Homo sapiens: one gene and its partner. The protein of the gene in region 1 interacts with the protein of each later gene in a biochemical or structural test. Each region holds a gene or a part of one and is shown on either strand. Other genes may lie near its edges.

Region 1 (3,622 bases):
CATTTGGAAGAGTCATGTTGGTAAAACACAAAGCCACTGAACAGTATTATGCCATGAAGATCTTAGATAAGCAGAAGGTGAGTGTATTTGTTGTTATTTACCTTCAGGGTAAACTTTAGTTTTATCAGCTAGACTATTAAACAGATTCAGTATAATGACTTACCATTGACAGCTTCAAATAATTTTATTATTAAATTTAATTTTTATTGTAACTAAATTTTTATTGTAACTATATTATACATAGTTAGTATACAGTCAGCCCTTCCATATCTATGGGTTCCACGTCCATGGATTTAACCAATCACAGATTGAAGATATTTGGGAAAAAAATTACATCTATACCTAACATGTACAGACTTTTGTTTCTTGTTATTATTCCCTAAACAATACAGTGTAACAACTATTTACATAGCATTTACAATATATCAGGTATTATAAGTAATCTAGAGATGATTTAAAGTATATGGACAGTGTGTATAGGCTTTATGCAAAGCCTCTGTCATTTTATATAAGGGACTTGAGCACCTGGGCATTTTGGTTTCTGCTGTAGGTCCTGGAACCAACCCCCAGGGATACTGATGGACAACTATAATTTATTGTGACAATTATGGACTAATTTGTTTTGTAACTATTACAGAAGTTAAAATGTGTACAGTAGTGATCCAACCACTTCATGTTACAAATTTTGAAAACCTGAGGCCCAAAGATTTGAAATCATCTCAAGTCAGAAAGTTAGTTAAATAAAAGGCCTAGATTAAAACACAAATCTGACTCCTACTCAATTTATTTGCTCAATATTATCAGTATACTCCTAATTTTATATATTAATACCTGGCTGGTATCTTTAATTACTTTTGTTATTTATATTTAACTTCTTGACTTCTGTGACTATCCTCACATTGACCATTAGACTCCAGCAAGAAAGAATGCCACCTTCTAATGATTTACACATATACAAGAAAATTATTTATATGTCTTGCTAAAGTCACCACTTCTTAAATTCAAAATAGAATCACATATGGAATAGAATCACAGTCTTCGTGAAGTCAAGATAAATTACTTTCCCCTTCTATTAAATAGAAAATCTAGAGGAAGCTTAAGTCTAAATGACCTAGGATACAAAGATAGTTTTTGTTATAAAGATAGTTTTTTCCCCAATATTTTGTGTGTCCTCTTCTATGGCAATATAAAATAAATTTTTAGAATTTATACCTATATTTATTTAGATATTATAAAATGAAAATTGTTCATTTTTACTCACTATTTTTCAGTTATGGACTTTCTCTTCATTTTTAATTTTCTTATTCATCTTCTGAAGTATTTAAAATCACTATCTACTTATTGCAGAGATTTGAGCCAGCTTTTATAGAGGACTTTAAGTCATTAGGACCTTAGTATTTTCACATTCATTTTTAAATTACCTTAAGTAATTATATATTTATTTAAGCATAATTGACATAACTAATTTTTAAAGTAATTTCTTATGAGTTTGTTTCTTATTCCTACTTAGCTCTCACTTCTTAATTGAAACCATAATTGACCTTCCTAAGACCAAGTTTTAAATCCTCTATTAGGTTTTCATTTGAATCCTATTATTAAAAGTAATGGCAAAAACCGCAATTACTTATGCACCAACCTAAAAGTTGGTAATTGTTATTATCTTCCTTATCCAATTCTAACAATTTTGCTTATCCAAGTTTATTACTATATGGAAAACATTTTTTTAAATGATAACTTTTTAATTTTGCTTAAATACATTAAGAGATATTTATCTCTCAATTACAGGTTGTTAAACTGAAGCAAATAGAGCATACTTTGAATGAGAAAAGAATATTACAGGCAGTGAATTTTCCTTTCCTTGTTCGACTGGAGTATGCTTTTAAGGTAAATTTTAGTAATATCTAAATAAGATATTTTCAACCTAAATTTTTTTTAAGATGAAACTATAAATGGATTCTAAACCAGATGATAAGCCTGAAGAATATGAATAAACAAAACGAATACCTCTAGAGTTTGTGTAATTAAATCCTATTGTGCTTATAACTTAGGTAACGTTTGAAAAGGTTTTGATTCTCCCTGGGGAAATTGTTCAAAGGTGATACTCATGAGATGGTATTACAAAAAGAAATATTTCAATTTATCAAAAACCATAGGGATATCTTAATAACAATTCTTATGCAAATTCATACACCCAACACATTTTCTACTTTGATTAAGCCCTTTTTGCCACTATCTCATCTTCTTTTACTTAGTAATTTGAGTTCTAGTCTTTTCACTTATACAAAGCAAAATTTTTGTTCCACTATTCAAATGTCTGAAAAATTGTACCACATTTATTATTTAAATTGGTCACTTTTGAGCTCTTTGGAATGATACTGGCATCTCTCTGCAATATTGAATCATATGAAACATTTTAATCTTTTTTCTCCTTTATTCTTTAAATTAAATGAAGACCTATGTATTTAAAATATTAAAACCATTAATCTTTTATACATAAAATGTAAATATTCTTATTAACTTTTTAAATTGTTTTTTACCTTTGTTATTCTTTTGCATATATTATAACGTTACTTCATTGCCTGAGTATTTAATTGTTTGAGAACTAGATGTTCTCTGCAAGAAAAGGAAGAGCAAAAGTCCCAGACTAGTTTGTGGCAAAAATAACTAGGAGGGGAAAAATATGAGTGTCTCTGTATAGAAAAGCTAGAGCATGTTCCATTTATTCTTTATTTCTCAAGGTTATTAATCTGTCAGAGAGATTTTAAATTTTTCTAATTCAGCATTATATAATATTAAAATAATTTTGACCTAAGTTGAATAATTGTATTTCCTTTTTATTTGTTCATAGGATAATTCTAATTTATACATGGTTATGGAATATGTCCCTGGGGGTGAAATGTTTTCACATCTAAGAAGAATTGGAAGGTTCAGGTAACTAATGGTTTTGCTTTCTTCAAATCTTTATATGCTTGTGTTGTTTAACCAGATTTTTAAGTTGATGCCAATGCCAAAAACTTATTTTGTTTGATTAATATTTTGGCCATATGAAGCATTAGGTGGAAACAAAGAGGCCACATCATACACAAGTTTTAATATAAAGAATATAAAAATTTAATATAAAAAAAGGACTTTGAAGCCAATTTAAATGTTATACTACTGCTAGATATTGTGAGGGTCCACTACTTGAAGAGTTTTCAGAAAATGGAAAAATTAATTGAATTTTAAAATATCAATATTTATTAAACAAAGATTAATAATACAACTCCAGGACAGAGGATTGTTTTAAGGATGAAGATGGAAAATAAATATATAGAGAAATAATAATAATAGTATTATGGTAATAAGATTATAAAAGTTTGTTTTTCACAAATTTAATTCTCCTTAAAGTTCTTGCTAAGTTTAGTTTTTAAAATATACACATAATTTAACGGGAGTTTGTACCTCATCAGGTTATGACTAATAAGATCTCAGAGTTATTAAAATAGGTTATAGAATCTGATGGTTTTACCTGTACTTAATAGTTTATAAGCTTCTACCGTTCATTAATAATCACTAATAGAATAAAGCTAAAATAAAAAACAGGTACAGCTTCATTCAGTATAGTGTGTTGAAGTCAAAATAA
Region 2 (3,622 bases), about 150 Mb from region 1:
TTATTATCTTGAGCAGGTCATTGTCTATTGGATTTGTATTCAGCACCCCAGCACATTGAGGCATCTTTTTGACCACTGTCCACAGAAAGCTTTTTTGCTTTTCTTTTTTTAGAAGAGGTGTGAGATCACTGTTAAGGGAAGTAGAGGTGAAATCTTTAATGGGCTGTATCTGTGAGTTATGTATGCTGCTGTAAATTAATTCCTCATTTGCAAAGGGGTTTGTCACTGTTTAGCTTGTACCTGTCTCTCTGGCATCTCTGTTCCATTTGCTGCTGCTTGTCGAGTTGGCTCACATTCCTTCCAAATAGTTATGTAGATGAATGATCATTGATTCAGTGGCTCCCCCATCTGTTGGAAACCTGCCCACTTGGGTCTGTTTATCTTTGAGAGAGATTGAAAATATGTTTTTGTAAACTCTGGATATGCTGGGACACTTATTTTATGAGAGAAAAATCCTATCATAAAATAAGCTGTCAGCTTGTAATGGATTCATTCACTGTCATATCCAAACATATCCATGATTTGGAATGTGTGTTTTATTTTAAAGATTTTATTAACTTACCAATGTAGCATCAAACTGTCATTTGGCATTTAAAAACACGCATCTTTTTCGTTATGGTCCTCTTTTTTTTTTTTTTTCCAACAATCATACAGAATGTTATAGAAGATATTCCTCTGACTTTAGGAAAACCATGGTATAAAATGACCTTGGTCAAGGTTTTTTTTTTTTTTTTTTTTTTTTTTGAGTACTTTGTCTTTCTTTCATTTGTCTAAGCACAGTTGAGTTACCCTTGTGGTGTACTGTGTCATGTAGTTTTGTATTTACCCATAGATTGAGACTTAAAGCTTAGTCCTGGCTGTAAGAATGATCCTGATAGGAATGCTTACGGTCTTCCTCCTGTCTTCTTTTGCAGAATGAAGTATTTCATTATAGATTTCTTCTCAGTGTTCATACATCTTGTTCCACAATGACAAGAAGCATCTTTAAATATACTCATCTACAAATGGTGACAATTATGCAGTATAGATGCTGGTGTACAACACTGCATAGTAGTTTGGATGGGAATACTTAGCCCTAGTTTGTAGAGGTCCAGGAAGGTTAATGGTATGAAGTCAGTACTCAGCAGTGCAGAACGAGGACTAAAATTCAAATCTTAGGCTAATAGTGTTCTTTCCAGGAGAGAAAGGCTTCTTTATCTGCTGTTCAAGTATGTTTTAGGTTTATAGCAAAAGAATACCAAGTCAGTTTTCTCAGCTGTAGGAATGTCACAGAGTACAAAGGAAAAGATGGAATGAGCAGTGGAAATTCGCACTTTTTGCTCCCTTCATAATGAAGCTACGAGGAGCTTTAGATAGATATGCACTATGGTATTTTCCCAAGGAACTGATGGAAAGCCCACCCAGGCTTACATCATCAGACTTATTTTATTTTAACTTAGAAATTAGCATGTACACATTGGCAGGAAGGGCAAGATCTAAAACGCTTAGGGCACTAATTTATTTGACATTCAATTGTATTTGTACTTTGGCTTCAGATAAGTGTTTTTATCACGGCTGAATTACCCAAGAAAGGACTCCAGCAGCACTGGGTGACTGTGCTTCTTTAGATAGCTTTCGGGAGAGAGGGAGAGGTGATGAAGCACACATTTTTCCTGAAACTCTGACATTGTGGGAATTAGATTAATTCAGAAAACATTTGTTGAACACCGTCTGTATGCATAGCATGTTAAGGAAGTATTCCAAATAAGTAGGGAAGTGGTTTGCAGCTGTAATTGCAAAGAATAGATATAGAGGATGGCATGGAGCAATCAGAAGGAAAAATGCATAAACAAACTCCAAAACATTAGGGTAGGAAGAGGCCTTTAGAAAACATTACCCTGTCCACCCCATGCCTCTCTGATATTGCAGATAAGGAAACAAAAGCTCAGAAAGCCAAATGACTTGGCCCAGTGTCACACTCCAAGTTAGTGGCATTTAGTAATGGAGAGTATATGAAAATCTGTGAAGAATTTCCAGAAAGGAGGTTTACCAGCACATCATTCTTTATAGAGTAGATTTAAACCCACTTTTCCATTTTATCCTTAACTTGACCTTCATAGAGTTCTGTCTCCAAATCTGTCCTCTTGTCCTTCCAGCCAGTGAAAAGGAGGTTTCTTTTGTCTTTTCTAATGTTACAGTCCCTCACATGGCCTGAATCTTGGTCCTGGAAGCCAAGATTGGAATCCATCCTTTCTAGCCTTTTTTTTTTTTTTTTTGCCTCCCTATCCACTTACTCCTTCTGGTTTATCTTGAAGCCTGTTAATTTCTCCCATCTTAAAATGTCTGTCTTTGACCCGGATACCTTATTTGGTTGCTCCCCTCCTGCAGAAGTGGTCTTCTCCCACTGCTTGTACCCCTCTCCATGTAATTATCTAGCTTCTCTTCCTTCTTCAATTTACTTTCCAGGATGTTGCCAGTAACTCCCTCCTTGCCACGTCTAAATGTCCCTCTCTGTCCCTATTCCCTTAGATTCCTTCTCAAGCTCTACTACCCTGACTTTCCTTTTTGAAGCTACTCTTTTGACTTTGGGGACATGGTACCTTCTGGGTAATTTTTTACATTTCTGATCATGCTTTTTCCAGGTGCTTTTCATTCCTTTTACTCCAAGTGTGTGGTTATCCCAAAAGATTCTGTCCTATTTCCTGTTCTGGCTCTTCTGCCTTCATGAGCTTATCTATGTCACAAAATCTGGGATCTCTTGAATAACAGAGTCTGAAAAGACTTAACAATGACTTCATCCAGCTCTGAGAGCCAGAGAGATGAAAGGAATGTTCCCAAAGCGACTCTTTTTTGTAGGAGAAACCCACCGTAGATTCGACAGCCCTGGGCCTTCACTTCAAGCCTCTGTTTAGACTTCCCTCTTGCCTCTCGGACCCCAGAAACACCAGCTTGACATCATTGCCTGTTCGGTTCCCTAAGCGACTTTCCTTCCTAGTGTCTCTGCTGATCAGTGGCACTGCCGTTTGTGGCTGTGGCTCCAGTGTGATCCTAACCTTCAGAAGACCTGAGTCTGAGGCCGGAATCCACCAGCACCTAGCTTTACGGACTTAGAACAACAGTGCCTGGCTCATGGGAGTGGCTCAATGCATTTGTCTAGTTCTCTTTCTTCTCTTCTGCATCTAATTTGTCATCATAGCCCATCGTGTTTCTCTTTGCAATCCAACTCAGATTTCGATGTGTTTCATACTCCGTTAGCTTCTTGTTCTGATCCCAGTACTCATTTCAACCTTCGTCATCCTTCCTCCTGCAACAAATCGGCAACCCACCTAGAATCCGCCTGCCATTTTAGTCCTCCTGAAACCCTCGTGTCCATCTCCCAGCCTCAGCTCACATCCTTGCATATCCTGTCTAATTTCTCTACTTGGCCTTTTATGATCTGCCCCTTGATACCTTGCTTATGCTTTTCATCCTACACAGAGTTTTCTTGGATCACTCTAACCAATTCCGATTTTACCTTTCTCCGACCATTTATCACTAATAATTAATAAAATGTATGGAACTGATTGGGAAACTCAAGCAATGGTCAGAGAATGCTCTGACCCTGATGCTCTGTGGGTGAGTTGGGACCGTGTTGGGCATCGGT

The links. Proteins that work in one complex are often made in the same cells at the same time.
Region 2: of the proteins of PRKACB (region 1) and RYR2, one has a biochemical effect on the other in vitro, tested with the Homo sapiens proteins (one study listed by BioGRID).

What each region holds. Positions count from the first base shown.
Region 1 is NC_000001.11:84,182,252-84,185,873, forward strand, and holds part of PRKACB (cAMP-dependent protein kinase catalytic subunit beta), read left to right. Parts: coding exon 1-77; intron 78-1,785; coding exon 1,786-1,884; intron 1,885-2,848; coding exon 2,849-2,931; intron 2,932-3,622. UniProt on the Homo sapiens protein: Mediates cAMP-dependent signaling triggered by receptor binding to GPCRs.
Region 2 is NC_000001.11:237,045,152-237,048,773, forward strand, and holds part of RYR2 (ryanodine receptor 2), read left to right. Parts: intron 1-3,622. UniProt on the Homo sapiens protein: Cytosolic calcium-activated calcium channel that mediates the release of Ca(2+) from the sarcoplasmic reticulum into the cytosol and thereby plays a key role in triggering cardiac muscle contraction. Aberrant channel activation can lead to cardiac arrhythmia.